Linked DNA regions of Homo sapiens. The protein of the gene in region 5 purifies or fractionates together with the protein of the main gene of each other region. This does not show direct contact. Each region holds a gene or a part of one and is shown on either strand. Other genes may lie near its edges.

What was found.
Region 1: the proteins of CA9 (region 5) and XPOT purify together in Homo sapiens (affinity purification with mass spectrometry, with the first as the bait; one study listed by BioGRID). This does not show direct contact.
Region 2: the proteins of CA9 (region 5) and IPO5 purify together in Homo sapiens (affinity purification with mass spectrometry, with the first as the bait; one study listed by BioGRID). This does not show direct contact.
Region 3: the proteins of CA9 (region 5) and CAND2 purify together in Homo sapiens (affinity purification with mass spectrometry, with the first as the bait; one study listed by BioGRID). This does not show direct contact.
Region 4: the proteins of CA9 (region 5) and IPO9 purify together in Homo sapiens (affinity purification with mass spectrometry, with the first as the bait; one study listed by BioGRID). This does not show direct contact.

Annotation. Positions count from the first base shown.
Region 1 is NC_000012.12:64,440,764-64,447,709, reverse strand, and holds part of XPOT (exportin-T), read right to left. Parts: intron 2,636-6,946; coding exon 2,579-2,635; intron 1-2,578. UniProt on the Homo sapiens protein: Mediates the nuclear export of aminoacylated tRNAs. In the nucleus binds to tRNA and to the GTPase Ran in its active GTP-bound form. Docking of this trimeric complex to the nuclear pore complex (NPC) is mediated through binding to nucleoporins.
Region 2 is NC_000013.11:98,020,592-98,026,598, reverse strand, and holds the end of IPO5 (importin-5), read right to left. Parts: intron 5,608-6,007; coding exon 5,466-5,607; intron 4,864-5,465; coding exon 4,777-4,863; 3' UTR 2,303-4,776; downstream 1-2,302. UniProt on the Homo sapiens protein: Functions in nuclear protein import as nuclear transport receptor. Serves as receptor for nuclear localization signals (NLS) in cargo substrates.
Region 3 is NC_000003.12:12,825,922-12,831,844, reverse strand, and holds part of CAND2 (cullin-associated NEDD8-dissociated protein 2), read right to left. Parts: intron 4,406-5,923; coding exon 4,241-4,405; intron 3,819-4,240; coding exon of another isoform or gene 3,756-3,818; exon of another isoform or gene 2,246-3,755; intron 381-2,245; coding exon 273-380; intron 1-272.
Region 4 is NC_000001.11:201,850,932-201,857,877, reverse strand, and holds part of IPO9 (importin-9), read right to left. Parts: intron 5,775-6,946; coding exon 5,686-5,774; intron 4,868-5,685; coding exon 4,781-4,867; intron 3,284-4,780; coding exon 3,164-3,283; intron 3,056-3,163; coding exon 2,955-3,055; intron 2,755-2,954; coding exon 2,696-2,754; intron 2,096-2,695; coding exon 1,944-2,095; intron 783-1,943; coding exon 684-782; intron 1-683. UniProt on the Homo sapiens protein: Nuclear transport receptor that mediates nuclear import of proteins, such as histones, proteasome and actin. Serves as receptor for nuclear localization signals (NLS) in cargo substrates.
Region 5 is NC_000009.12:35,675,107-35,680,918, reverse strand, and holds part of CA9 (carbonic anhydrase 9 precursor), read right to left. Parts: intron 5,382-5,812; coding exon 5,352-5,381; intron 5,159-5,351; coding exon 4,988-5,158; intron 4,856-4,987; coding exon 4,713-4,855; intron 4,623-4,712; coding exon 4,530-4,622; intron 3,243-4,529; coding exon of another isoform or gene 3,228-3,242; exon of another isoform or gene 3,130-3,227; coding exon 3,063-3,129; intron 1,735-3,062; coding exon 1,577-1,734; intron 1,066-1,576; coding exon 921-1,065; intron 807-920; coding exon 780-806; intron 167-779; coding exon 85-166; intron 1-84. UniProt on the Homo sapiens protein: Catalyzes the interconversion between carbon dioxide and water and the dissociated ions of carbonic acid (i.e. bicarbonate and hydrogen ions).

The DNA.
Region 1 (6,946 bases), on a different chromosome or scaffold from region 5:
CCAGGAGTTTGAGATCAGCCTGACCAACATGGAGAAACCCAGTCTTTACTCAAAATAGAAAAAATTAGCCGGGTGTGGTGGTGCATGCCTGTAATCCCAGCTATTCGGGAGGCTGAGGCAGGAGAATCACTTGAACCTGGGAGGCAGAGGTTGTGGTGAGCCGAGATCGTGCCACTGCACTCCAGCCTGGGCAACAACAGTGAAACTCCGTCTCAAAAAAAAAAAAATTAAATATTGAGGAGGAAACAAGTCAAAGCTAAACATAGCAGTTCTAACTCTGTAAGGAATTTACTATTTATTTGATGATTCAAAAGTACTTCCAAGTCAAAATTTGAGACTACAAAGGAGTTGGCTAGAGGCTGTGCTAGGCATGGCCTAGTACTACATGCTGCCATCCATGGCAGGTCAGGTGAGCACCAGACATAATTCAGTGTTCTCAGTAAGGACAATGATATGGTTTGACCCTGTGTCCCCACGCAGATCTCATCTTGTAGCTCCCATAATTCCTATGTGTTGTGGGAAGGACCGGGTGGGAGATGATTGAATCATGGGGGCAGGTCTTTCCCATGTTGTTTTCCTGATAGTAAATGGGTCTCACAAGATCTGATGGTTTTAAAAATGGGAGTCTCCCTGCACAAGCTCTCTCTTTGCCTGCTGCCATCCACGTAAGATGTGACCTGCTCCTCCTTGCCTTCCGACATGATTGTGAAGCCTCCCCTGCCATGTGGAACTGTAAATCCAATAAAGCTATTTTGTAAATTGCCCAGTCTCGGGTATGTCTTTATCAGCAGCGTGAAAATGGACTAATACAGACAAGAACAGTATTGATAGTGCCCTAGTACCTAGGAGATTCATTTAATAGATAATCTACTATGTGCAGGGGAAAGAATGATCACTATATAGGCAAAAGAAAACCTTACAAGGAGGCTGTGCTTAAGGCAAACCTAGAGAAATGGGTACAGTTCATACAGAAGTTGGGCTGCTAGTAAGGCAGGATTTTTGAAGAACTACAAGAACAGTAAAGACCATTTCTGCAAGAAAAAACAGAAAGGTAGTCTCAGGGCAGAATATGAAAAAAAAAAAAAATTAAGTGCCAAACTGAGAAACATGAATTTGTTCAGGAAGGTTATGAGGAAGGTGAATAAATATCAAAGGACTGCTTGAAGTTTTCAAACACATCAGCCTGGCTAGAACAAGAGAAGAGAGATCAGAGTAAGATAACATCAGCCTACACCAGAGCAGCAGAGACAGAAGAGAGAGAAGATGAGGAAAGAATCTGCAAGATCTGAGGATCAATCAGATGTGAAGGGAGGAGTGAACACGAATGAAATTCATTTTTTCCAACTAGAATAATAATGCTAACACTGAGAATTATGATCACTAAGATAATGTCATCACTGAAGAGAAGTTGGGCCCAGAAGGAAGACTTTTTATAAATGCTATGCAGATAAATAACCACATCTGGAGAACAAGCCTTCTATAGGGTACCTAGATCTACTGTTACAGACACCTCTAACAGATAGTGAGGACTGAGTCCTTAAATTCAGTTTGACTGATCAGTTATTTAACAGGGGTTACTCCTGTAGGCACTTTGCTTTTTTATGGGAGGATGGCGAAGGGGAGGGTTCCCAATGATAAACAAAAACAAGCCCTCAATATTCTTCCACAAAAACTCTGAGATGTTTAAGCTGACAAACTACAACTAAGAAAAAACTGACAAGGGAAGATGTTAGAACCACAGTCAAAGGATGGCACACTTAAATTATTTACTGCGCAAAGCCCTCTGACTTACAAATTCTACTGAATGTCTTTGCTAAAAGAACCAGGTGATACACTAAGTTACCTGCTACTGAATTTAATACAGTGCTTTGTCTTCAAATTATTTGAGTGAAGATAATAAAAAATAATTCACCTTGTCACACTGTAACTTTATTTCTAGATCATGAGCTCCTTATGGGGAGGGAAAATTACTCATAGTTGTATTTGCAGCCATTACTGTAGTACTTGGTACATAAAAAGCAGTCATTATGTATGAAATGAATGACTACCTAGGTAAGACCAAGACAGTTTCATCTCATGAACTCAATTATAACTATGAATACCAAATAAACACGTGACACTTTTTGTTGATTTACAGAGTTAAAAAAAAAAATCAGTAATTTCGTAAATGTAAAAGGAGGCTTGATGGCCCAAATCTGAGGATTCTCCTTTTTGTCTGTTTTACAGTTCAAATGTTTCAAAATAGGATATAAGCAAATATCTCATCCTTCTGTTTTTATATTTTTAGCCCCTTCTTTTCAACTTAATTTGGACAACTGTTCTTGAACATTTCTTATTCTCCTAATCCCTCTAGTTTCTATTTAATTACATCATGAAACTGTAAAAGAAAACTGGCATTTTCTCACCAATATACTCAAAGGTGTACACATTCAGTGTGCTTACCTAACTTATACTCTTTTTCAAGAGCTTAGTTAAAAGGGACTTCACATAAACATCTATAATTGCAGGTATGTATTCTCTCTTGGCTCTCAAACATTACCTAATTGTATGAAGATACGTGAGCTTCACAAATACCTACCTTTAAGTAATTTTTAAAAACTTTAGCATCAGGCTGCTGAAGCGCTTGACAAAACTCCTGGGGGGTGGGGAAAAGAGGGAGAAAAAGAACAAATGTATTTGTATTAAATCCATTGTAATTCGTATCCAGTTTTTTTTTTTTAATTTTTTTTTTTTTTTTAAGAGATGGTCTTGCTCTGTCATCTAGGCTGGAGTACAGTGGTGTGATCATAGCTCACTGTAGCCTCCAACTCCTAGGCTCAAGGGACACTCCCACCTCAGCCTCCCAAGAAGCTGGAATTACAGGCATAAGTCACTGTGCCCAGCTCTTTTTTTAAAAAAGCTGTAGTTAAAAACACTTAAAACTTATCACCTTAACCACTTTTACATGTACAGTACAGTAAGCATTAACTACATGCACACTGTTGTACAACAGGTTTCTAGAACTTTTGCATCTTGCAAAACAAGCTTGCTTTTTGCCTCTTAACTGAAGAACTCCCCATTTTCCCCTACTCCAGCCCCTGGCAACCACCACTTTCTGCTTTGGTGAGTCTACTTTAGATATCTCAAACAAATGGAATCATAGAGCATTGTCTTTTAATAACTGCCTTATTTCATTTAGCATAATGTCCTCTAGGTTCATCCACATTATAGCATATGACAGGATTATTTTATAAATCAGGCTTAATATTCTATTGTATGTATATACCATATTTTGTTTATCCATTTATCTGTCAAAGGAATTTAAGGTTGCTTCAAATTCATGGTATTTAACTTATCAAGATTAATTCAAACAGTATCTCACCACAAGAGGTTTATAGCATTTTCAAATGTCAGTACTTGTCAAACAGGCTGCTTTCACTTTTGAGAACATAGCTCTCCTAGACAAGGTGGATTCATGCCTGAGAGGAGTGAATGGGACAAAAACTACATTGCTACGGCTGCTCACATCTAGTAAGAGGGATAACCAAACAGAGCTAGACCAAAAGAAAAGAAAATTCTAATAGAGAATATTGTGCAAAATGTGTTGTCAGACATAAGGCATATGAAAAAGGGAAAACTGAGGTTCCTTATCTTTCATAATGAATTACTAAATAGAAAAATAATTTTATTTCATTTAGCAATCTGGAAGATTAGCTGTAAACTGAATGGTCTAAGTTCTACTTTTGATGAGCACTAAGATCACAAGAATAGTAATTTATTATTTTCATTAAAATATGAGTTTATTTACATATCAAATGATAACCAAGAAAGTCATTAATATCTCTAAAGGTGGTATACTGTGAAATAAGAGATCACAAATTCATTAAAAATGAGTTAAATTCATTTTTTAAACTCATGTGAAATCTTTATTTTTGAAAAAAACAGCATTATAAAAACTTCAAAAAAACACCATTGAGGCTGGGCACAGTGGCTCATGCCTGTAATCCCAGCACTTTGGGAGGTCAAAGTGGCCGGATCACTTGAGGTCTGGAGTTCAAGACCAGCCTAGCCAACATGGTGGAACCCCATCTCTGCCAAAAATACAAAAACTAGCCAGGTGTGGTGGCATGCGCCTGTAGTCCCAGCTACTTGGGAGGTTGAGGTGGAAGAATTGCTTAAACCCGGGAGGCAGAGGTTGCGGTGAGCCAAGATCGCACCACTGCACACTAGCCTGGGCGACAGTGGATGACCCTGTCTCAAAATAAAAATAAAAAACAAAAAAACACCATTGAAAGCTGTGTTCATGGACTGAAGACTTAATATTGTTAAAATGTCTTTGCTACCCAAAGCAATCTGCCGAGAAGTGATGTCTGCTGTTCTCTTACCTCTCTTTGGTGTTTGACTGCCACCACCTATGAAGGGGCCCTTACCCTTCTGCAATACCCAGACCAGGGTGATGTAGTAGTGTTCAGGGACTTGGTGAAGGTCATAAGAGTGAATTATAACACACATGGGGAGCTGGGTGACAGTGGCAGGAAATTTGTATTTTTCAACATACCTCAAATCCAAAAACAAAAAAAACCCTTGGATCGGGCACGGTGGCTCACGCCTGTAATCCCAGCACTTTGGGAAGCCGAGGTGGGTGGATCACGAGGTCAGGAGTTCAAGACTAGCCTGGCCAAGATGGTGAAACCCTGTCTCTACTAAAAATACAAAAATTAGCTAGGTGCAGTGGCGGGTGCCTGTAATCCCAGCTACTCGGGAGGCTGAGGCAGGAGAATCGCTTGAACCCGGGAGGCAGAGGTTGCAATGAGCCGAGATCGCGCCACTGCACTCTAGCCTGGGTGACAGAGCAAGACTAGAGCAAGACTCCATCTCAAACAAACAAAAAACCCTTGGATGCAGATCATGATGTTTAAGAACACAATACCATTACCCTTCCTACAATTCTATTTATATTATGAAGAGCAGGTCCTGGTGGATATAGAAATCAAGATGAATAAGGAGATTATGGAACACATCAAAAAAATCGTGGGGAAGAATGAGGACACAAGAAAGGAGAGCAGGAGAAAAAGCAGCTCTCTCACCCAGCTCATTTTGGCCTTCAAAGTAGTTCTGATGGGAATCTACCTGTGAAGTTAAAGGGCAGGTGCCCTATCCAGGCCTAATGGCATTAGGAGACGACAGGGAAGTACAAAGCAACACTGAAAGCCAGTGCCTAGCAGTAAGGTCCAAGGACACTATGGGCTAGGGTAATTGATATGGGGTTACCTTGGTCACAGAAAAGCCCCTGGTTCTGGACAGGTGTGGTGGCTCACGCCTGTAATCCCAGCACTTTGGGAGGCCGAGGCCAGTGGATAACTTGAGGTCAGGAGTTCAAGACCAGCCTGGCCAATGTGGTGACCCCGTCTCTACTAAAAATACAAAAATTAGGCATGGTGGTGGGCACCTGTAATCCTAACTACTTGGGAGGCTGAGGCCGGAGAACTGCTTGAACCCGGAGAATTGCTTGAACCCGGGAGGTGGAGGTTACAGTGAGCAGAGATTGTGCCATTGCACTCCAGCCTGGGTGACAGAGCAAGACTGTCTCAAAAAGAAAGAAAAAGATGACGACTCTGGAAATGTCTTTGCAATAAAAGGGTCCCCCCCCCACTTTACACATTATGTAAAATGACACAGGGGAAAGAGTATATAAAACTGAGCTGCTAAATGAATATCCCTGTTCCATCAGGTCAACAAAATGCTTCTTAATGGCCAGGCAAGGTGGCTCACGCCCGTAATCCTGGGACTTTAGGAGGCCAAGGTGGGAAGATCACTGAGGTTAGGAGTTTGAGACCAGCCTGGTCTCTACTAAAAAAAAAAGCAAAAACAAAAATTAGCTAGGCATGGTGGTGCCTGCCTGTAATCCCAGCTACTCAGGAAGCTGAGCCACCAGAATCACTTGAACCTGGGAGGCGGAGGTTGCATGCAATGAGCCAAGATCGTGCCTCTGCACTCCAGCCTGGGCACTAAAGCGAGACTCCATCTCAAAAAAAATAAAAATAAATTTAAAAAATTTTAAAAAGCTTCTTAATCATTCCAAAAATAAAAAACAAAGTGACGTACAGATTCAAGGCAATCCGTATAAGAGTTCCAAGAGCATATTTTATAGAAATAGAAAAAACAAAACTAGAATTTACATGGAATCACAAAAGGCCCTGAATAGCCAAAACAATCCAGAGAAAGAGCAAAGCTGGATGTACCACACTTCCAGATTTCAAAATATATTTTAATATTACAGTGTGAAAACAGTATGGTACTAGCAAAAGACAGACATATATCCTAGCTACTTGGGAGGCAGAGGCAGAAGGATTCTTTGAGTCCAGGCGTTTGTAGTTGCTGTGAACTATGATGGTGCCACTGCACTTGAGTCTGGACAACAGAGTGAGACCCTCTCTCTTTTAAGACAGACATATAAACCAATGGAACAAAATAGAATTTGAAAATCAACTCCTGTATACAGTCAACTGATCTTCAACAAGGGTACTAAGAATACACAATGGGGAACAATAATCTCTCCAATAATGGTGCTGGTAAAACTGGATATCTACGTGCAAAAGAAAACGAGACCCTTATCTTACACAAAAATCAACTCAATGTATTAAAGACTTTATATGTAAGTCTCCAAACTGCAAAACTAGAAGAAAACATAGGAGAAAAGCTTCAAGATGCTGGTCTTTGAAATGATTTCATTGATATCACGAAAAGCTACATTAGTGGGGCTACATTGAATTAAGAAGCTTCTGCACCATAAAGTAAGCAATCAACAGAGCAGAAAGGCAACCTCTGGAATAGCTAAAGAATGGGAGAAAATATTTGCAAACCATTTATCTGATAAGGGGTTAATTTCTAACATATAAAAAAACTCCTCTAATTCAATAGCAAAAAACTTAATAACTTGATTAGAAAATGGGGTAAAGACTTGAAT
Region 2 (6,007 bases), on a different chromosome or scaffold from region 5:
GTACCGAACAAACCAGCTCTTGCAGCAAACTGAATGTCTTCTCCAAACAGGGACAGACTGCTGCTTTTTAGGGTGGAGCTCCAGATGAGGCAATGGGTGCATTTAGGGCCATGTCTTATGCAGATCAGGCATCTTCAAACACCAGAATCACAGTGTCAAGAAAGTAAAATAGTCCACATACACCACGTTTATGGCACAACTTCACTGACTTTGCAAAGTTTCCCAATATTTTCCACAACTTTCTAGGCTTCCTCCTAATGCCAAGGCTGATTAGAGAACTTGAAAAAAAAAAAAAGTTTGCAGCTGGGCACCGTGGCTCACACCTGTAATCCCATCACTTTGGGAGGCCGAGGCAGGCAGATCACGAGGTCAAGAGACCATCCTCACCAACATGGTGAAACCCTGTCTCTACTAAAAATACAAACATTAGCTGGGCATGGTGGCTCACACCTGTAGTCCCAGCTACTCGGGAAGCTGTGGCACGAGAATCACTTGAACCTGGGAGGCATCTCACTTGAACCTGGGAGGCAGAGGTTGCAGTGATCCGAGATCGCGCCACTGCACTCCAGCCTGGTGACAGAGGGAGACTCCATCTCAAAAAAAAAAAAAAAAAAAAAGTTTGCTTAAATTATCTGTAAGTATTAATAGAATTTAGGTGTAATTCTGATAGCTAATGCTTAATGTGCCTGGCTTCTAAATCCATCTGAACCCTCTATAAGGTATGTACTATTATTGTTCCCATTTTACAGAGAAGGAAACTAAGGCATACAGAGGTTAGGTAAGCTGAGTACATGGTAGACTGGGATTTTTTAACTGACACAGTGATTTGATTCAGAGGTCAGCAGCTATGGCTAGCCTCTTTTGTCAAGTTTCACTGGGATACAGCCAAACCCGTTTGTTTACTATGGTCCATGACTGCTTTCGCACTGCAACGGCTAAGCAGTTTGTGAGACCCTATAACTTGCAAACACATACTTGTTCGGTGACGAGTGCTAAAATATTTACTATCTCGAACTTAGAGAACACATTTGCCAACCTCTGGTCTTAACCATACAGCACCATGGTCTTTTATGGTGCACCTTAGGATCACAGGAGCAAGTTGTCGGGCTGATCCAAACTCTTACATTTTCTACCCATCTGTTACAAAACTTTTAGGGGAAATAGGGGAACTAATTTCTGATTCATATCAAGTGGCACTATTCTGGTTTCCATTACAATCTGAATGCTAGTCAAGAGGACAGAAATGATAGATCAATCAAAAGGAAATACACAATGAAAGCTCCTGAATCATGAAAGAACAGATTTCATAATTATACTCTGCTGCCTTAGTGGAATTTAGAAAAAATTTTTTGTAATGTTTTACAAAAAATTATATTGTACCACTTTTGGATTCATTGAGAAGTGAATAATATAGCTATAATTTATCTTTAAAATGTTTGTATTCATCCAAATATAATAAATACATAGAAATAATCAGCCCAAATGTTGTCTGGCATACACTGTAAGGGTTACAGCTGTGTGGGGAAAAAAGGGTTTAAGTCTAGGGCAGGATGTTGTTAGAATTAACCCCTGCTCCTCAGCACCACCATTCAGAAGTTCCAAGTGCTGGAAATAAATATTCATGCTTCCTCCCAAGTGTGATGTGCATACATTGTGGATCATTCACTTTCTTCTTCTAATAGTGGTACTCATACTTTTAGGGCCGAGAAAGAAAATCTGCTTAGGAATAGCAAACATGGCAGGTTTTGGCTGTTAATCTTTTGTGGCAAAGAAGGTTAAGAGAAGCAAAGTGATTTCGTTTTTTTTTTTTTATTTTTATTTGAGATGGAGTCTCACCCAGTTGCCCAGGCTGGAGTGCAATGGCACAATCTCGGCTCACTGCAACCTCTGCCTCCCAGGTTCAAGTGATTCTCCTGCCTCGGCCTCTGGAGTAGCTATGATTACAGGTGCCTGCCACCACACCTGGCTACTTTTTGTATTTTTAGTAGAGATGTGGTTTCACCATGTTGGCCAGGCTGGTCTCCAACTCCTGACCTCAGGTGATCCGCCTGCCTTGGCCTCCCAAAGTGCTGGGATTACAGGCGTGAGCCACCGCGCCCGACCTGCAAAGTGATTTCTGTGCAGCAGAGAAAACTGACCCAACAATCCTCCTAGGCAGAATGAAGCAGTTATTAAAACATTTAGCTAGCTCCTTAGCCTTTCACGTTGCTTAAACAGGCACTCACTCAAAAGATTAGATCATAAAAATATAATGCTTGCAAGACTGTAAGTAAGCACCCCCCTTATTTATTATCAGACCAGGTGCACCAAGACCATTTATTTGCTTATGTCTTTACTGATGGTTCTGTCAAACTACAACTCCAGAGTTATAAGGTTGCCTCTCATTACAGAAGTGTCAATTAGATTTAAGACAATTTTACTTTTCTTTAAAGATACAGCATTTAAAAAATACTCCAAATTGAGTTATGCCAAAGTTTCTAACACTTGTGCGTGTAACTTGTTACAAAATTCCCAGAAAACGTAAGAGCCACACACATTTTTCCCCTCCAGAAATAGCTTGCATTTATAAACAATATATATCACTTGCTGACATGCAAGACCCCTAAATTTGGTACAAAAGCCAAGAAAAAACTCCATGGATTTTCATCTTGCATAGACAGAATGAGGTATTAAAAATGCTTCTGCAGGTCCTTTCAAAGAATTGTTAGTTCATGGTACATCTCACAGTTAGTTCTGAGCTCTGGGTTTCAGAATCATGTCACACTAACAGCATTTACTACCAACCTTCCCTATTAACTTGATTCAACTCCAATTACCTCTTTGCTTTTCTGCTTTTATCAAGGAGGATGCTGCCAGTCTGCATCTAACAGAGCGCTTCTTTCAGAGCTCTTAGAACCCTGCTGTAAGTACATCTCAGATACTAACGGCATCTGACAATACCACTAGTGTTTAAACTGGAAGGTAGGAGGTTCTTGCTCCCAAAGTGCTTAGCATAGTGCCCAGCAAACACTAGGTTCTCCCAAAAAACATCTTCTGACCACACTGTCATCTGAAATTCTGCAGGTGTGCCATGATTTTAACATGTTTCTTTTCTGCAAGTGTAGTAATAAAGTGTAGTAATAATTTAAATTAAAAAAAGCCTACATTGCTCTAGCTGATTGGCATCAGTACATGAATCGGCTTTGCAGATGCTACATAAGAAAGCAGAAAGGGGTTGTCTTGACACACTTTTTACTCCAATTCCCATTTTTTTCTCCCAAGGAATACAGGCTATAAAGCTCCAAATATTACCACACATTACAAGAGCCCACAGGTATTCATCCACTGAACACAAGGACTGCGCAGGTGGAGTCATTTAATATGCTGCTTTGCTAGATTCGGAAGCCTCCGGGCAATGGTGTTGTGCTGCAAACGTAAAATATATTTGAAGGGCATCTGCTAACAAGGAAACCATCTGTATGTAATCCATTCTATTTTCTATTCCATTTCAGATTTAGTTTTAATAAAGTAATACAAATCATTTAAAGAAAAAACCTTTAATTTAAAATTCTGATCTATGCATAAAATTCATTTTTATATCACGGTTAAATTTAGTACAAACTATAAAAATGTTAACACTGAAGTTTTCAACAGAAGTCTATTAAGATGCCTTAGAAAAATTAAACAACAGCAAGTCATTTACTGCTATGAGGTTAATACATAAAGAAACATTCACACATTTTACTGAAATTTTCAGTAAATAACTTTAGCCATAACACTTATAATTAAAAGTTCAAAAGTTGTGTGTGGCTCTACAGCAATTATAATTTGCAATGAAAACACTAAGCCAAATCTTTTTGAGCTGATCAGAACAATCTTAGCTACAAAATTGGCTGAAATTTGCAAACCTTAAAAAGAACACCAATTGTGAATGGAATAGGTATCATAACTTAGCTTAAAGTGGAAGATGGTAAAAACTCGATGCTTAAGTCTGAATTGCACAAGGAAAATATTAGGGGAAAAAACACTCAGCTATTACTGATAGCTATTACTTTAAAAAAATATTAGATCATTCTTATATTAAAAACATGAAATGAATCCAAGCCAGACAGTACTGAGTTTTTACACAAGCCTCTTTTGTATTCAATGTTGTTTATTGAGGAGTGAATGAGAGACTACTGCCAGACATGCCAATGACACTTCACATTCAAGGGCTGGAAGCTGGAAAGCTTCCCGACTGAGTCACTGTATAAGCCTTCTGGGAAAAAGAACCAAAGTGACATCAAATATGCCATCTTCATGCTTGTTGTCTGTCATCAGTTTTTTTCAACTTTTGGGTCTACTGGTTTGCTGGGTAGGAGGCTTCTTTCTACCCTACAGAAAGACTCACACTCCCAATTCACAATGAACACTGAATGCAGAGCAATTTGTGTGAACACACATCTACGCTGAGTAACTGTTCTTAAAGCTGTTTTTCCTTAAATTTCCTTATGTCTAACGAGAAAAATTAATTTGATTTCCCTTTCCCCTTCAGGTGGGCGGGTTATACCAATAGAAAAATAGTCTTCAGTGCTAGCTACCGCAGGGCTTCCAGGAACTCCTTCAGTGGTCTGGTAGAAATCCATGGAAACTCCATTCTGCAACACAGCGCTGCTCTTCCTGCTTGTGGCTCTCCAGAAGAATGGCCTACACACAACACTACCGATCTCTTTTGCTCAAAAACAAAACAAAGAAACCTAAAGGAAAGGGTAAGCGTTTATTTGGAGTTAGTTTTCTGGTGGGTGACATTAAGGCCCTTCACGCAGAGTTCAGGAGCTCCTGAATGGCGGCCTGCTGCTCAGGACTGAGCTGTGCTATGCACTCAGTCCACAGTCCTCCAGAAGTCTAGGGAAAGAAACATTTTCACAGACTTAGGACGAAATGCTCATTTGGAAGGATTTTAATCATCATCATAGGTAAACTGTAATCATGGCAAAATACCTTCTCCCTAGGTACATTATTTTGATGAGTATCATTGTAAAAGCAAGAAATCTGTTCATTTTTTTAAAGTTCATTTCATTTCCAGTAAGTTTTCTTCATTTTTGCACTGAAAAAGCTACACTAAGCAGGTAACATCTTAAAGTAACCCATATACCACATGAATATAGGAAGTAAAAATCATATAAAGTTTTTTGGCAGATGACAAGTTATTATTAAATCTTGTTTTTTTTTCTTAAGATAGGCAGAAAAACTACACATAAGCTTGTGTTAAGCACCAACTGGTAAGCTCAAAATGTCCTAAGATGAAGGTTTTAATTCTAATAAATAATAAGTACATACGGATGGATTACATTAAGTATAATCCATTTGAGGCTTGGAGACAAGAGACTATGAAAATATAAAAATAAAATTCCTTAGCTCATTAGATTTCTAGTTTCTTCTCATAGAGGACTACAAAGAAAAAAAGGTTTTATCTCCCCCTCCCCAATTCAACCAAATCAGCTTACCTGTACTTGGCGAACGACATTGGCCAGACGTTTGGCACAAGGATCTTCATGTTTAATTGCCTCGTGCATTTCTCCTTCCGCAATTATACTAAATATTTTGGGCAGATTGGTATTGTTTGGGCCAAGAACAATTGGATGATTACTGACAAATGAGAAGAAAACCTTAGTAAGTGAAATTTATAAGGAGAAATATGATTATGTGTTCACTAAAATCAATGGCCTTTTAAATTCAGTAGGAAGAAAACCAGCCAATCTTATATATGAACTCTTTAGTTTCTTTCTACATAAATTAGAAAAAAAAAATACTGGGCTCATCTCTCAGGATTGTTTTAAGGGCCAAACAACAGAATGCTCTAAATACCTTATAAATAATTTGTGATGTGTTAAAAAAAATGTTTTGTATTATTAAAAATAAGTTTAACACAAGTTTTATTTTGCTACTACAAAATAGCTTCTAAAATAACTCTGAAGTTCAAAAAAATTATATAAACATTTCAAGAATAAACTGGGAAATAAACTCAGGCAAGTTTAATGGGAAAAAA
Region 3 (5,923 bases), on a different chromosome or scaffold from region 5:
TGAATGGAAGGAGAGACAGAGGTGGGTCTGAATCCAGCTCTGCAATTTACTAGCTGTGTAGCCTTGGCCAATAACAACTTCTCAAAGCCTCTGTTCCCCTGTGTATACAATGATAATAAGAGGTACTTTATAGGGCAATGACAATGATTAAATGAAGCACTTTCACAACATCACCTGCACTGCAGGAAGTGCTCAGTAAGGGTAACTGAACGACTGGCCGAGGACTCCATAGGTGCTCCAGGGCCTGGGCTAGGGCTGGGCCAGGGACTTACCTTGGCAGTGCAGGTGGCCCTTAGTGGCTCAATGAGTCGGTCCACCCTCTGCAGGACAGGTGCAGGACACAGGGTGGCCAGCCGGGCAACCATGATGAAGGTCAGCATCTGCCCAGAGGAAGGAGATGGTTCTTAGTGAAATGGTGCAGGAGCAAGAGCAGCAGCCAGCCCTGGGAAAGAGCAGAGGCCCCACAACTGAAACCTGAAGCCCAAGTTCAGACCACCGTGAAGTCCTGCCAGAGTCTCTCCCTCTCTGGGTCTGTTTCCTCAAATGGTGACACTTTCTTTGCCAACTACACTTGGATGACCCAAGGAGGATCAGAAAAGCACCAGGGAGGGAGTCGTTCTCAAGCTCAGATGCCCACCAGTCAGGCAGATGCTGGGGATGAGTGAAGGGGGCTGCTGGGGCAGCTCTGGCTGAGTGTGGCCAGGTGGGAGTGCAAACATGTAGCTTGGGGCCACTGGATTGTTTTCAAAAGAAATCCCAATTTTCATGTAAAAAAAAAGTCTCGATTTTTAAATGTTGACACCTGATTTCAAAACCAAACAAAAACTTTTAACAACAACTAAACATGGCTGCAGGCCTAGATTCAGCCTGTAGGGGAATAATTGTCCTGTCTTTTGAAAATAGTCAAGTCCTCACAAAGAAGCCTTGCACACCATAAAGACTGGTTGTCTGAAATCCCCACGCCCTACCCATCTCCACACCCTGACCCCTAAGCCCCACAGCAAAGGAGGAGGCCCAGCCCACGGCAGCAAGGAGCAGCGGTGCTGGACTTCAGGAGCTATGACTCTTGGCTACTCCATGACCCTGTGCCCTAGAACTAGACAAGATTCCGTCTCCCCTGTGAACTGGGCGGTGTTCACTCCCTCTCTAAAGGCTCACTTGAAGACTTGATGACGCAAAGCTGTGGGCTCTATAGCTGTAACACCCACCCTCCTCACCCCAGGGGGTGGCAGCAGAGTGGACTCCAAGGCTGCACTGGTGCCTAGGCCCTGTCCTGCGCTCCTGGAGGGCAGGCATGAGAGGATATGGCCAGACTGGATGGAAGAAACAGACTTGCTCGATCCTGGAGAAAAATCCCCACAAGGTGGAGCTTTGGGCTGGCCCAGAACTCCTCACTCTGTGTCCTGGGGTCAGTAGCCCCACAAGATGCCTAATACCAGGCACACCCAGATGATGGAAGCTGAGTACACCCCTCCCGTCTGGAGCCTCCCGGAACCCTGTGGTGGAAAGTCCTGTTCAGCTTTGTGCGCCCCATCATTTTCCACTAGTTTGCATGGCATACACTGGAAAACCCAACCCCCTTTCTCAACCAAGATCTTGGGGCTGGAATCCCAGAGAACTTATGTTGTTTCTTCTTTTCTCTTTCTTGGGGGTTGGCAGGAAGCAAGAGTTTAAAGCAATAATAAAGCCGAGGGGGAGACAGGCAGACAGGAAGTGCAGGAAGGAGCGTCCCAGGAACTCCAAGTCTGGAGTGGTCAGAGGCACGCCCGCTGCAGGAGGTGCAGCCTCACCACGCGCATCGGATGCTTTAGCAGGAACATGCACTCCACCCTAGAAGCCCACCGATCACACCGTGGGTCACAGTAATGCACCAGGGTGTTCACAGCAGCATTGTCTGTAATTGTGAAAATGTGCAAATAACATACATGTGTAGCAGTGAGTGCAACAGAAATGGGAACTCCTGCAGCTGTTGACAGGACTGATATATATTGAAAAGCAAAGCAAACAACATACAGTAAATGTAAGTTAAAAGGCTGGGGAAAAAAACAGCATGTGTGTGATCCCATTTCTAGAAAACAGGTCTCATAAACTCATCTCCACAGCTTTGAGAACAGGGACCCCACCTCTCACATTGACCTTGGCGTGTTGGCACTCACTTAATACTGGCTGACTAATGAATGAGGGTCTATGTGCATCATCCCAAGAAACACACTGAGACAGCAGGCCTCTCTGGGTGTGGAGAAGCTTTTGGGTGATTATTACTTGCTTCTTTATTTGCTTTCATCTTGTGTAAATCTTTTAAAACAAGTATGGGTTACTTTTGATTACTTTGTATTAATTTTTCCTTATAAAAAGTGACTCACGCTTACAGTACATATTTTTTAAAGTTGTAATATGGGGCCGGGCGTGGTGGCTCATGCCTGTAATCCCAACACTTTGGGAGGCCGAGGTGGGTGGGTCACCTGAGGTCAGGAGTTCAAGACCAGCCTAGCCAACATGGCGAAACCCTGTCTCTACTAAAACATATAAAAATTAGCCGAGCGTGGTGGTGCACATCTGTAATCCCAGCTACTCAAGAGGCCGAGGCAGGAGAATCACTTGAACCCGGGAGGCGGAGGTTGCAGTGAGCCAAGATTGCACCAATGCACTCCAGCCTGGGCCATAAAGTGAGACTCCATCTCAAACAAATAAATAAAAACTTAAAAATAAAGTTGTAGTATAGCAGTTCCTTAAGACATTAAACACAGAATTGCCGTATGATCCAGCAATTTCACTTCTGGGTAAAGTGAAGAGAACTGAAGGCAGGATTCCAAAGGATATCGGAACACCTAGGTTCACAGTCGCATTACTCATAATAGCCAGAAGCTGGGAACACCCAAATATTTGTCCAGCGATGGATGAATGGGTAAACAAACTGGTGGTCTGTACATACAACACTGGGAAATTCTGACATGCTGCAACATGGATGAACCTTGAGGACATCAGACTAAGTGAAACAAGTTGGTCACAAAAGGACAAATACTGTATGATTCCACTTACAAGGGCAGAAACCTAGAGTAGTCAAATTCATAGAGTGTTGAATGGGTGCAGTTTTCAGTTTGGGAAGGAGAAAAGAGTTCTGAGATGGACAGTGGTGACGGCTGCACCGCAATGTGAATGTGCTTACTGCCACTGTGCTGTGCACTTTAAAATAGTGAAGATGGAGCCTGGCGCAGTGGCTCACACCTGTAATCCCAGCACTTTGGGAGGCCAGGGCAGGCAGATTACTTGAGGTCAGGAGTTCGAGACCAGCCTGGCCAATATGGTGAAACCCCGTCTCTACTAAAAATACAAAAAAAATTTAGCTGAGTGTGGTGGTGGGCACCTGTAGTCCCAGCTACTTGGGAGGCTGAGGCAGGAGAATCGCTTGAACCTGGGAGGCAGAGGTTGCAGTCAGCTGAGATCAAGCCACTGCACTCCAGCCTGAGTGACAGTGCAAGACCCTGTCTCAAAAAAAAAAAAAAAAAAACACTTCACCTGCAGATAGTAAGTTACTGAAGATAGTAACTTGTATTATTAATATTTCGCCACAATTAAATGATTTCTATCATATATGTGAATAAACTTTAACATTTAAAAAAATGATATAGAAAGATATAAATTGAAGAAACCGACGTCTCCACCAGCCCCAGACTCACTCTGTCTGTTAAGAAAATGGTCCTAACTTCTGGAACTAGCTCTTGCCACTCAACATTGGGGCTTGGAGCTCTTTCAGGTCACAACACGAAGAGATGCAGCTCGCTCCTCAATGCTGCTAGTATTCCACAGCTGAAAGTGCCCTGCAGGGTCAAAAATTTCGTCTGGGAATTTTTTTTTTTTTTTTGAGACAGGGTCTCGCTTTGTCGTCCAGGTTGGAGTGCAGTGGTGTGATCATGTTTCACTGCAGCCTCAACCTCCTGGGCTCAAGCCATCCTCCTGCCTCAGCCTCCCAAAGTGCTGGGATTACAGGCATAAGCCACCACACCTGGACAATTTTTTTTTTCTGGTTGCTGTGAAACCATCCTCCAAAGAGCCTGCCCAGTGTAGACTCCCACCAAAGGTGTTTGAGACACAGGTTCCTTTTCTTATCAGAAAACAACAATGCAGCTATTTTCATTGGGTGCCTGGAGTAGGGAGCAAGGACAAACAAGCATGGCCCCAATGGTGCCCGACTATCCCTTGGTACAGGGGCACATAGATCTGGCAGGGGGCTTGGTCTTACCCGGATGTCGTAGTGGTCCTTCAGCCCGTCCTCCACATGGTTCAGGAACTCACAGATATCCAGCTGGCCCAGGCAGCTCTCAAGCAGTGAATACATGCATTCAAAGGCCGCCTTCCGCACGTCCAGCCCATCGTCCACTGTATGTTTAAAGGGCCCCATCTCCACCTGCAGGAGGGATGAAGGTTGGTGATATGGCCCCAGGGTGTAAGGACACCTCTTCTAGCTTCTGCTACAAACCCCACATCTCTATTCCACAATCCATGCCAGCCCCAAATCGTGCCTTATACTCTCAAGTCTCCATGCCTTTGCTCAGCCTGCAGTGTCATTTCCCCCAAGTGATAACAGTGGCAATAAGAACAATTATTCTTATAATCTACTGAGCAGGCACTGTCTGAGTGGCAGGCACTGTGCTGACTGCTTGACTGATGACGTTTCATTCAAGCATCACAAATGCCATCAGAAGTAAATGTTACTGGCCAGGCACAGTGGTTCACGCCTATAATCCCAGCACTTTGGGAGGCCAAGGCGGGCGGATCATGAAGTCAGGAGATTGAGGCCATCCTGGCTAACATGGCGAAACTTCACCTCTACTAAAAATACAAAAAAATTAGCCGGGCATGGTGGCACGTGCCTGTAGTCCCAGCTACTTGGGTGGCTGAGGCAGGAGAATTGCTTGAACCAGGGAGGTGGAGGTTGCAGTGAGCTGAGATCGCGCCACTGCACTCCAGCCTGGGTGACAGAGCGAGACTCCATCTCAAAAAAAAAAAAAAAAAAGTAAATGTTACTGATCCCATTTAATGACAGATGAGGAAACTGAGTTGGGCAGGTTAATTAACTGAGCTGGACAGGTTAAGGATACACTGCTTGTAAGTGGCTGAACTGGAATTTAAAACCCAGGTAGGTTGGGCATGATGGCTGTCCTCCCAGCACTTTGAGAGGCCGAGGCAGGAGGAATTTGAGACGTCTGGGCAACATGGCAAAACCGCATCTCTACAAAAAAATACAAAATATTAGCTAGGTGTGGTGGTACACGCCTGTAGTCCCAGCTACTCAGGAGGCTGAGGTGGGAGGATCGCTTGAGCCCAGGAGGTCGAGGCTGCAGTGAGCTGTGATTGTGCCACTGCACTCCAGCCTAGGTGACACAGCAAGATCCTGTCTCAAAAAAAAACAACAAAAAAGACACCCAGGTCTTTCTGAAGCTTTCAACCATGAAGCCCTGTTTTAATGGTAAACACCTTTTCACCCTTCAAAGCCCAGCTTAAAGGGCCTCAATGCTGCTAGTATTCCACAGCTCAAACTTACTAAATCACCTTTAACCTCTGCCCCCGAATCCTTCCTTTACCAGGTGGGCTCTAAGTGAAACGCAGCTGCTCCTTGGTGTATGATGGGATTACATCACAATAGGTCCATTGTAAGTTGGCTTCCAGAAGCAATCCCATCATAAGGTGAGGAGCCTGCTGAACGCTACTGCTTTTGCACCATTGTAAAGTTGAACCATTGTAAGGCGGGGGCTGTCTGTAATCAGCAGAGTTGGCATCTCTGTCCTTTAGGGGGCCACGATGAACTCCTTGGTGGCAGAAACCCAGTCAGGCCCAACTCTGAGTCCTGGCACTTGGGCGCAGTGCAGATGTTCAGTGAACACCTGTCAAACATCAACATTTACTGAGCGCTGGCTGTGTGCCT
Region 4 (6,946 bases), on a different chromosome or scaffold from region 5:
CTAGGTTTGCCAACCTTTTGTCTGTGCTATAGATTCTTGTTGAAGAGTGAATTAAACTGAAATGGCTTTTTTTTTTTTTTTTGAGACCAAGTTTCACTCTTGTCGCCCAGGCTGGAGCGCAATGGTGTAATCTTGGCTCACCACAACCTCCGCCTCCCGGGTTCAAGCAATTCTCCTGCGTCAGCCTCCCGAGTAGCTGGGATTACAGGCATGCGCCATCACGCCCGGCTAATTTTGTATGTTTAGTAGAGATGGGGTTTCTCCATGTTGGTCAGGCTAGTCTTGAACTCTGGACCTCAGGTGATCTGCCCGCCTCGGCCTCCCCAAGTGCTGGGATTACAGGTGTGAGTCACCACGCCCAGCCATAAACTGAAATGTTCTTGATTCAACTACCCTTACTCCATGGAACACTTTATCCTCTATACAATTCTCCCCCGCACCCCGGCCCTATGGTCTGCACAATTCTTTTATCTAATATTTAGTTTTAAGTTAGAACCAGTAGCAATGATTTTAGAATTTCTGAGTCTCGAATTTCATTTCAGAAACTCTCTTGCATCCCCAATAAAGTCTGAGATAAAGCCACCCAACAACACTGCTCACCTTGGATTAGTTGTCTACAAAAAAGAAGAAATGCTCAAGTGACTGATAGAAATTATGTGGCTGAAGTATCAAGGTAAACTTACCAGCAACAAGTCTTGAGCTGCTATTCTAACAGTATAGGAGAATGTATCATCATCTTCATCTTCTACAAATTGTTGGGGGTTGGCTGTCCATACTTTAATCTGAAAAGATCAAGTTATGTCTTTGTGATGCTGCCAATCTGATTCATAGCTTTTCATCAACAGATACAGGAAGATTTCAACCTATTATCCTGAAAAAACTCTAGCCTTTTGCTGGATGCAATGGCTCACAACTGTAATCCTGACACTTTGGGAGGCCAAGGTGGGAGGACTGCTTGAGCCCAGGAGTTTGAGACCAGCCTGGGCAACATAGTGAGACCCCACCTCTACAAAAAATAAAAAAGTCAACTGGGCATGGTGGCATATGCCTGTGGTCTCAGCTACTCGGGAGGCTGAGGCAGGAGGATGGCTTGAGCCTGGGAGGTCAAGGCTGCCGTGAGCTTTGTCTACACCACTGCACTCCAGCCTGAGCAAAACAGCAAGACCCTGTCCCAAAAAGCAAACAAAACAAAACAACAACAACAACAAAAACTGAAACAAAAACTCTAGCTTAAAAAAATCTTTTCTTTTTGATGTAGAGAAATAAATACTATTAAGTAGCAAGGTAGGTAGCAATGGCTATTGCTCTCTTTTAGAATCTGGCTGATTACTAGCTCTCTGCCAATGTCAACCTGCTGTTACCCTTTGATAGATCGATTTTCTGAATAGATTAAGTCTGATAGACTATTTATTGTGAAAATTATGTCAATTCTTGTGCTGTTTTAAACGAGGCGTTATCTAATTTTTGAACGTTCTTTGCTGCTTTTGATGACCCACCATCAGGCTAATGGTCTGATTATTACATTTTACTTTAGGGAAGGAACAGATTCTCCTAAAAATCAGTGTCTTAGGTTAGTGGTCCTGTGAGATTTTCTAATGGCAAAAGTGGGCCAGGCACAGTCACTCATGCCTGTAATCCCAGCACTTTGAGAGGCCAAGGTGGGTGGATTGCTTGAGCCCAGGAGTTAGAGACTACTAGCCTGGGCAACATAGTATAGTACTTTGCTGGGAAAAAAAAAAAAAAAAAAAGCCAGGTATGGTGGTGAACTCCAAAACCTTGGATTTGGCAATAAAATGATGTCAAACCTTTCCCAGAACTTCACATGAAATTATTCTTTTTGTGTCTATTTTTAGAAATAAAGTGTTCACCTGACCAAGACCTCATATTCTTCAAGTTGCACTTTCCAAATACAAGATGGTAACTGTCTCTCAAATATTATTTACCTGCTCCTCAGTGATTTGCATGTACAGGATAATATAATAAATCAATTCAGGCAAGGCTTTCTTAACAGTGCTTTTGAATTTGCTATTTTCTAGTAGAGCATGGACAAATTCAAAAATGCTAAAGACGAGATTTTCAAAGCCCAGGACTTCACCTGCAGGAAATACAGAAGAGAAGAAATTAATGACAAGAAAGCAAAAGGAAAGCATATATGCAGAAAATGAACTACATAACCTTTGTAAATTACTGAATATTTAAAGTACTTGCTAATGATCATTCCTGAGGAATTGGGAGAGAGGGCTCAGAGGTCACAAAACGTAATTTTGAGGATATTAAATATTCTTTGGTTTTTCAAGTAAAAGAATCAGAAACACTGGATATATTTTCCAGTATGTCTATTGTTCTAATCTGAAATAATGAGAAATGTTAAAACAGAAACGAAAGATTCATGATCTGGGACCCCCAAATGAAACACAACAAAATGCCAGAAGTAGGCTAGATTAAATGGCCTTAAAAGTATCTCTTCCAATGCAGAAATTCTATGATTTTATGAGATTTATGCAACTACCTATGTGGAACAGATTAAAGATTGTCAATTCTCATTTCCCCACATCGAATACATCGAAAATAAACTGAATTAGAAAACACTTAATAGAGTGAAGCCTCTCAAGTTACTGTTTCCCGCCCCCATCTCTGGCTTCTTTTTCTTTTCCCACTAACTGGTATTTCTATAAAGATCAAATAAACTACATACCATCAGAATCCACAGGATCTTCTACTTCTTCTGTGTAATTTACTTCTGTCCTCACATAAGTATGATGAAGAGTAAAGAAATAGAATTTGGAGTCTGCTTTACATATAATCTACATGGAAATGTTACATATTCCAACACTAAAAGTAGACACCTTAAAAAAGCCTGTGTAAGAAGAGTGGAACCATATGAATGTGAAACCCAGTGCGAGATTCCTAACTATAGGTGGTAGTAGCTCCCTTAAACTTTCAAGAAAGGATATAAAGCTGCACTCTCGGTTAGGGTGTTCCAAACAATAGGCAGAATCTGCTGCATGGAGGACACCATGTGCTTTGGGAAGTTTTTCACTAGGGCTGTCACTGCCTAAGAAGTTAAGAGAAAAGGACCCAAGTTATGAGTGATATATAAGAAATAAATGATTTCAGACCAGCCCCTCAAACTCCAAATATTTCATTGGTAGTAAGTGTTTACCTTTAGGACCTCCATCTTAAACCCACTGTCAGATGTGGGGCCATCTGGTATCTGGAGGGCCTGAACAAAGGCCTCTGTGAACTGCTGTACCACGGGAAAGATCAGGACTTTGGCTGCACCCTGATAACAGAAACCAAAGTCAATACTGGACAAACCCCTAATCCATGGCTTCAACACATATATATCAAACACTGATATTTGAAAGGCACCTAAAGCTCTCTTCAGGCTCCAAGCCTGATCAGAAGAGAATAGCTATAAAGTCAATGAAGGTGTTACCTAAGATTTCATTTTTCCTTAACCAGCACTTGCAGTTCTTCATCAAAGCCCTCTTAAAAACTATTATGTAAGACCAACTTTCCTCCTAACTGCTTCTGAATCACAGGGATTGGTATTTTTCAGCTAGCTTTGCTTCACACAAGAGGGCCATAAAAGAGTAGGAAAGTTCTAAGGGATGACTACTATGAAAAGGATATAGGATAAGGTGTTTGAAGAAGTAAGACTCAAAAGAAGACTAAGCTTTTTACAAGTTGAAAATTCAATCAGGCCAGGTGTGGTGGCTCACACCTATAATCCTAGCACTTTGGGAGGCCAAGGTGGGAGGATCACTTGAGCCAAGGAGTTCAAGATGAGCCTGGGCAACATAGGGAGAGACCCCGTCTCTACAAATATAAATTCATTAGGCTGGGCATGGTGGCTCATGCCTGTAATCCCAGCACTTTGGGAGGCCGAGGTGGGTGGATCACGAGGTCAAGATATTGAGACCATCCTGGCCAACATGGTGAAACCCTGTCTCTACTGCAAAACAAAAATTAGCTGGGCATGATGGCGCGTGCCTGTAGTCCCAGCTACTCGGGAGGCTGAGGCAGAAGAATCACTTGAACCTGGGAGGCGGACGTTGCAGTGAGCTGAGATTGCACCACTGCACTCTAGCCTGGTGACAGAGCGAGACTCCATCTCTAAATAAATAAATAAATTCATTCGTTCACTCATTCATTCATTAGCCAGGAGTGGTAGCACATGCTGGTGATCTCACCTACTCGGGAGGCTGAGGTGAGAGGATTGCTTGAACCTGGGAGGTTGAGGCTGCAGTGAGCTATGATCATGCCACTGCATTCCAGCCTGGGTGACAGAGCAAGATCTTGTCTCAAAAAAAACCCAAATAAATAAAAAAAATACAAATATAGCTGAGTGTTGTGGTTCATGCTTATAACCCCAGCACTTTGGGAGGCTGAGGGGGGAAGACTGCTTGAGCCCAGAAGTTCAAGACCAGCCTGGGCAATACAGTGAGACCCTATCTCTACAAACATTTAAAAAAGAAAATCAGCCAAGTGTGGTGGTGCACACCACACCTGTAGTTCCTACTGGGGGTCAGGGGATCACTTAAGCCCAGGAGTTCAAGGCTGTAGTGAGCCATGATTGCACCACTGTAGTCCAGCCTGGGTGACAGAGCAAGACCCTGTCTGGAAAAATAACAACAATAATTTAATAAAAATGTTAAATCTATCTCTAATACTGGTTAGTGTGCTTTTTCGTGCTGCTATCATGAAATGACTCACTGCTCTGCATGAATAAAACTTTTAAGCATGAAGTCTGTTATTGATCCAAAGACCTGCTTACCTTTTCCAGCTCCTCCATGTTACAGATCATATGGGCACAAGTGGTAAAAATCTCCACGGCTCGGGAACGGGTTCGAATACCATACACCTGGAAGAAAGGTTACAGCATAACAGCATAGCCACGAGACTGGAGTGTGTAGGTATGTGTGTATCTCAGACTAGAAGTAAAACTATGACTAATGAATCCTCACATGAGATTGGATGCCCTCGAGAAATGGGAAATGTAATTCATTTATGTCCAGGAGGCAGACTTCTGTAATTCAGAGAATGAAAGGTAGCAGAATCATAATGTTGGAACTTACTGGAATGAACCTTATATAAGGGCCTCTGTGGGTTCATTTGATTAAAAAATACCAGACTAGGTAGTGCTTAAAATCCCAACACAGCCAATATATTTCCTTTAAAATGCAGACCATTGGTTGGGGGCAGAGGGGAATAGGGAAGTTAAAACATTATCCATCAGGTATTTATACCTTACTATAAATGAGTTATCATTCATATACACACTAATCAAATATATATGCAATATATTAAGGGTCTATTATGTGCAATGCAGTGATAGATTGCTTCCCATTACTTAGCTGAGGTAGGCAAGCGTAGGTGGGATAACTCAGTAAGAGGCTGGAAGTAGCATGAAGGAAGGCACTATTTATCTACTTAGGGGCTACTGGATGCCAGGAAGTACGATATGTGAAGAAATATTTCAGCTATTTCACACTTTTATCAAAGGCTTGCCCTTGTAGTTGAGTGAAAGGTCTAAGGTTAATGCAGATTCAGATCCAGATCTTTGTCAGTTCTAGTTTTTAGGTATTGAGATCAGTTGCAAACACCATAATCTCCCACCTGAAAGGCTGGGGGCTGAAGAGAGCCTGAACTCACTATAATCTTGGAGCTGAGATTTCATACCTCAGCCATGGTGAAGATCTTATACATCTCTGGGAGAATGACAGGAGCAACAAGTGGCATCTGTGTGTCTGTTACTTCACGAGTGAATTCTACAAAGAAAAAAGTAGTACTGTTAAAAAAAAAATACTGCTTCATAAAGATATTAAGTGTGATATTTTCTGAACTGCTTCTAGGTGGCAGTTCCCAAACAGACAGCACACAGGTAAAGACACTGGCCTGGTGGTCTCATTCTGTGAAAGCAAAAGTAGCAAGAGTTACTGATTATTTGTTAGAAGGAGAAAGAATAATATGGAAATAAAGAAAAATACAAGAGATTAAAAAAGAAAACTTTAATATAAATACTGAAAGAAAATCTGTAATAGAACTGCATAAAAGTCCTTGTGAGGTCAACTTGGGAAAATTCTGTATTAATTTATCTTGTGCCCATCTGTCAACATTCAGTTACACTTCGAGGTTTCTTACCTTTGCTTCTGTTTTCAGTACTTTCGCTTGGCAAGCTGGTTTGATGCATGTAATAAAATATGTACAGACTTACTAGGCCTCAACTCCTCTTTGTATATGTTACTCTTCTCAGATTTTATTGACCTAAAAGTCAGAGGCTGCTGCTAACTGGAACAAATGGGAATTTTCTATATAAATGTGACAAAAAGCAACCTATACACAGAATGAGACTCGAAGGTGACGGAAATATGGGTCGTATCTTTCCCTTCACGTCTCAAAAAAAAAAAAACCAAATACACCACACACAAGGCACTGAGACAGCACAAAGGACCCTGGATTCATGTTACAAAGCAGCAGAATAAAGCTCTTGAGTTCCAGTAACTATCCACTTTACCTGATGCTTTTCCACGTTATCACTATAGAAATGGACATATGGGCCGGGAACAGTGGCTTATACCTGTAATCCCAGAGCTTTGGGAGGTTGAGGCAGGAGGATCACTTGAGGCCAGGAGTTCAAGACCAGCTTGAACATAGCAAGATCTGCCAGTACATTTAAAAAAAAAAAAAAAAAAGCTGCATGTGGTGGCATGTGTCTGCAGTCCCAGCTACTTAGGATGCTGAGGCAGGAGGCTCGCTTGAGCCCAGGAGGTCAAGGTTACAGTGAGCTACAACAGTGCCACTGTACCTGAGCCTGGGTGACAGAGTGAGACCATGTCTCAAATAAATAAATAAATAAATAAAACTAAAAATAAAGCTAACCACTTGGGACATTTTGGGGGAAGATACACAGCTACAAACGCAAGCTGGCATTTTCAAGATT
Region 5 (5,812 bases):
GCAGCTCATTTGCATGCGCTTTGCATGAAGTGACTCCACAAGGGTGGGGGAAGCTTGTGCCTGAAGAAAGGGTCAGTGTAATACCTGTGCTGCCTTCTCATCTGCACAAGGAACGCGACGCTGGTGACAGCAAAAAGGAGGCCAAAAACCAGGGCTAGGATGTCACCTGCGATGGAGAGCAGAGAGGGCTGCTTTGGGAAGGAAGAGGGGTCTGCAGAGTTCCTCAACACCTGCCTCAGTGCACTCCACCACCCCTGCCCCGAGTTCTCAGGCAGCCCCTAGTGCCTCAGTCTCCAGAAGAGGCCAGCCAAGGGATGAGGGTGGATACACGAGAAGGGGTAAGATAAGCACCGTTTTTGCTTCCTAAAAGCCAAGTAAAAGGGCCGTTTGGGGCCAGGCACAGTGGCTCATGCCTACAGTCCCAGTGCTTTGAGAAGCTAAGGTGAAAGGATTGCCTGAGCCTAGGAGTTCGAGGCTGCAGTGAGCTATGATCGTGCCACAACACCCCAGCCTGGGCAACAGAGTGAGACCCTATCTTTAAAAAAAGGGGGGGGATTGTTTTGCGAGAGGGATGCTGGGAGATTTCTCAAGCTTCATTCTAATCAATTAGCCTCTGGGGACAATGGGGGAATCCCCACCATGATCTGCCTCTCTAATATTGGGGTTGGGGTCTGTTCTGCAGAAAAGGAGAGGGAGCAGAGGCGGTCCTGAGCAGCCCTGGGGCTGAATGGTGCTGAGGAGTCTCCTGGCATCAGGACCAAGAGGAGGGGCAGACTCACCAGCAGCCAGGCAGGAATTCAGCTGGACTGGAGAGAAAAAGGAGATGTGAGAGGCGGGCTGTGACCACCAATGACAGACACTGGCACACACATGGGAGGATAAGGGACTACTGGCTGGGGGGAAACCAGACAAAGCTGTACCTGGCTCAGCAGCCCGAGGACTGCTGTCCACTCCAGCAGGGAAGGAGGCCTCAATCACTCGCCCATTCAAAGGCTGCGTCGCTCGGAAGTTCAGCTGTAGCCGAGAGTCACCAGGTCCCCACAGGGTGTCAGAGAGGGTGTGGAGCTAGGGAGGTCAGTGGACAGTGTGGGTGGGTTCATGGCATGACAGGAAACAAGGGTCCCAGGCCAGCTCACAACCAGCACCTCAGGGCTCCACCCTCCAGCTCCTGTATTCCCCATCCAGCCTCTTGATTTCTTTTATAAATAAATAAATGTATCCTAAAGATGGTAGGCAGTGGTGGGATCATAGCTCACTGCAGTCTCAAACTCCTGGAATCAAGCGATCTTCCCACCTCAGCCTCCTTGAGTAGCTGGGACTAGGCGCATACCACCATGCCCGGCTATTTTTGGTTTTGTTGGGGTTTTTTTGGTAGAGATGGGGTCACACTATGTTGCCCCGCCTTGTCTTGAACTCCTGGGCTCAAACCATTCTCCCACCTCAGCCTCCCAACGTGGTGGGATTATAGGCGTAAGCCACAGAGCCCAGCCTTGATTTCTTTCTTCTCCTGTTTCTCATCTCATCTTACATCCTCTTTCCCCCGCACCCACTGTGTCCACACACACCCCAGGCCCACCTGCTTAGCACTCAGCATCACTGTCTGGTTAAACACAGTCCAGATGACACCCTGGGCACAGGGCGGTGTAGTCAGAGACCCCTCATATTGGAAGTAGCGGCTGAAGTCAGAGGGCAGGAGTGCAGATATGTCCAGTCCTGGGACCTGAGTCTCTGAGCCTGTGAAGAGGATCTATGTTGGGGTCTCATCTACATTGCACCCCCTTAAAGCTTCAGGGTATAGGGATACAGTTTCACCTCCCAGAAGCCAAGGTAACTCAACTCTGAGACCACTTCTTCGCTAAGTGCAGGCCCTTCCCATAAGACGTAACTCAAAAAAAAGTACAGGGCTTTGGAGCAACTGGAAGAGGCCTGAGGAAGCAAGAGAGGAAGAAAGAAAGGAAGGAGAGAAGGGAAGGTGGGAGGGAAGGGAGGAAGGAAGAGAAGGAAAGAAGAAAGACCGTCTGAGTCTACACTCTTAACTCTGTGTACCATCATAAAGTGCTGGGCCACAAGTTTAAGCCCAGAGCAAATTAAAAAGAAAAAATGAATCCCAGCACTTTGGGAGGCCGAGGCTGGTGGATCACAAGGTCAGGAGTTTGAGAGCAGCCTGGCCAATATGGTGAAACCCTGTCTCTACTAAAGATGTAAAAAAAAAAAAAAAGAAAAGAAAAGAAAAAATGATCTGAATAACTTGTAAATAAATATGAATATTGATAACTATACAAAACAGACACAAGAAATGCAAAGGCAGAGTTCTACCTAGTCTAGCAGAAACCTAAAAGGTCTAGTAGAGTAAGTGAGATTTAAAATGACCCAAGAGTGACTAAGAAGAGAACGATTTCCAACAAAAGTATTTACAAAGTTAAAATATTTGATGCTTATTAAAGATAAACAGTTCTCAGAAAAAGTTTAGCTCTCCAGACTTGACCTTGACAATTCCAAACACCATTTTTTGGTCTTGTTTTTTTTGTCTCATTTTGGTTTTTGCTTGGTTTTCTTTTTTTTTTTTTTTTTTGAGACAAGAGTCTCGCTCTGTTGCCCAGGCTGGAGTGCAGTGGCACGATCTCGGCTCACTGCAACTTCTGCCTCCCGGGTTCATGCCATTCTCCTGCCTCAGCCTCCCGAGTAGCTGGGATTACAGGCACCCGCCACCACGCCTGGCTATTTTTTCGTATTTTTAGTAGAGATGGGGTTTCACCATGTTGGCCAGGATGGTCTTGATCTCTTGACCTCGTGATCCACCTGCCTTGGCCTCCCAAAGTGCTGGGATTACAGGCGTGAGCCACCGTGCCCGGCGGTTTTTGCTTGGTTTTCAATCTGTAGGCAGCCGTTTGCGGGTAACTGTGTCTGTCAGCTTCATGGTTATTATCAAGATGAGCGCTGGCTCATGCTTCAATCCCTCCTGCACTGGAGGGAGCCCATCTCCAGCCTCAGACCTGAAGCTCCAAAGGGTGATTCTTTATGAACTAGGCCACAGAGATTAGTGGCCAGACCAACAAACTGACCTTCCTCAGCGATTTCTTCCAAGCGAGACAGCAACTGCTCATAGGCACTGTTTTCTTCCGGGCCCTCCTGGGGGATGACATTGTAAGACAGATGAGTGCATGTATCCAGGGCCATGGCTGAAGGCCGGAACATGAAGGGGGGTTCCCATAGACCTCTCCCATTCCTCAGCTCTGAGAATGCTGAGGGAACATAAAATTGTAATGGTTGTTGCTTTTTGTTGTTGCTGTTGTTTTTTTTTTTAGAGACAGTGTCTCCCTCTTAAAATCCTATGTATTATTTCAAACTCTATGTACTCTTGCTGTGCGAACCAACAAGCTTGGTGGACTGGTTTTCAATGACAAGCTGGAGAGAGAGGGAGAGAGCCCACTTTACTTAGGATACTAGGCTCTCAGTGACCCGTGCCCTTCTGACGTTTGCAGTCTCACTCACTGCTGCCTCCGTACATACTCCCCACAGGAAACCATATATACACCTTTGTGTTGGTGTCACCTCTGCATTCACCTTCATGATTCTGTGTTTGGCTTTTCAGGTGAGGTCCTGACATGCCACTTCTTTTATTTATTATTCTTTTTTCTTATTTTGCTTATGAACCTAATGTTAAGAACATTATGAACCTAAGAGTATGAACATATTGACATGCTATGATGGAGGCATTTCTCTGAACTTTGTGCTGTGTGGCTGGCATTAAAGAATCAGTGAGTGTGGCTGGGCACGGTGGCTCACACTTGTAATCAGCACTTTGGTAGGCTGAGTCAGGCGGATCACTTGAGGCCAGGAGTTTGAGACCAGCCTGACCAACATGGTGAAACCCTGTCTACTAAAAATACAAAAAAAAATTAGCTGGGCATGGTGGCACACACCTGTAACCCCAGCTACTCAGGAAGCTGAGGCAGGAGAATCCCTTGAACCCGGGAGGCGGAAGTTGCAGTGACCCAAGATCACACCACTGCACTCCAGCCTGGGCGACAGAGAGACTGTCAAAAAAATAAATAAATAAATAAAAGTGAGTGAGTGAACCTAGCAGGCATCTCACCATCCCTTCCCTTTACTGGCCTCCTCTAATCATGGTGTATGTAGCCATTCCCTAAATAGGCCATATTCTGAGTCTTTGCACATTCTGTTTCCTCTGCAATGAACACCTCCTTTTCTTTTCTACCAGTGAAGGCTTTAAGTGTCACCTCCTCTGTGACCACCATCTTTACTATGTCCTTCCTATGTGTCTGTCATGTCAGCCTCCCCCACTGGCTGTGGGCTCCTTAGAGGCAAGGACCTACAGCTTCAGAATCCTTGTTGGGGGCTGGTGCCTGGTTCACAGTGGGTGTTAAATGAACAAACAGTGCGTGAATGAGTTTGTCAGCCAGGGGCCTGAGTGAGCTTGCTGGGATGGGGTCTCTGGCTCCACGATAGAGTCCGGGAGGAGCATGGGATGGGAAAGCGGGGAGTAGGGGGTGTCCAGGATCTGGTACCTCCAGAAAGGCGGCCAACACGGCCAGGCCTCCCGGGCGCCCCAAGGCCTCGTCAACTCTGGCAAAGGCGGTGCTGAGGTGAACCACGTGGATCTGAAAAGGACACGAGGGTAGGAGAGGGCCACGTCTCTGGCCCCGCTCCGCCCCGCTCCTTTGCCCCTTCTCGGCCAGCTCCGCGCTCACCTCGGCAGGGAAACGGTGGCCTTCCACAGTGTGCTCCGAGCCCGGACGACCTGCAGCCCCCCAGTGCAGATGCAGCTGCAGAGCCCGGTACTCCCGCCCGGGACCCAGAGCCATCTCTAGCCCAGGAGGCAGGGTCAGTTGCACTGCGTAGGGAGAGGCAAGTGAGCCGGCCCCGCCCGGTAGGGCCAGCCCAACCCCCGGGCAGGCACTGCCGCGACGGTTCCCTTCCCTGCGCCCCGCCCCATCCCCAAGTCTCGGCGGGGAGACCCCCTCACCACTGTGGCCATTGTTGCGCAGGCGCAGTTCTGGGAGCGGCGGGAGCTGGAAGCCCAGGAGTTCCAGGGGGCGCAGGGCCGGGCAGAAGGCGGCGAGCTGGGGGCGGATATCCACCGGGGACTGGAAGCGGCCCGCGCAGGCTGGGGACACCCGGGGCCAGGGCGGGTCGCCTGGGGTGGGAGAGTATAGTGAGGAAGTCTGACGCCTAGGTCAGGAACTTAGGGAACCCGGGTAGAAAAGGTGAGGGGGTGGGACGGTGGGCGGCGGGTGGGACGCCCGGGACCAGTGTTCAGGGACGGCTGTAGGGGAGATCCACAGAGCTGGGTTCCCAGATTGGGTCTGTGCAGCGGGTGGGTGTCTCACCTCCATAGCGCCAATGACTCTGGTCATCCCCTGTATAAATGAAAAGGATGAACCGCTCAAGCTTAGAGCCCCAATCCCTTCCTGGCGACCAAAACGATGTCACAAACGCAGATGCCTTACAGGAGCATTACGGGTAACAAATGCCTTAAGCGGGCCAGGTGCAAAGCACAGGAGACCGCACCCAAACTCAACACCGCAGCTGGGTGGGCCAAACAGCAATCCTACCAGCTTGCAATCATTGTCTTAGGGTCTGTAAAAGTGAGTGGCTGCTTCAGGCCAGGCGCTGTGGCTCACGCCTATAATCCCAGCACTTTGGGAGGCCAGGGTGGTTGGATCACCTGAGATCAGGAGTTCGAGACCAGCCTGACCAACATGGCGAAACCCCGTCTCTACTAAAAATACAAAAATTAGCCGGGCGTGGTGGCGCATGCCTGTAATCGCAGCTACTTGGCTAGAGGCTG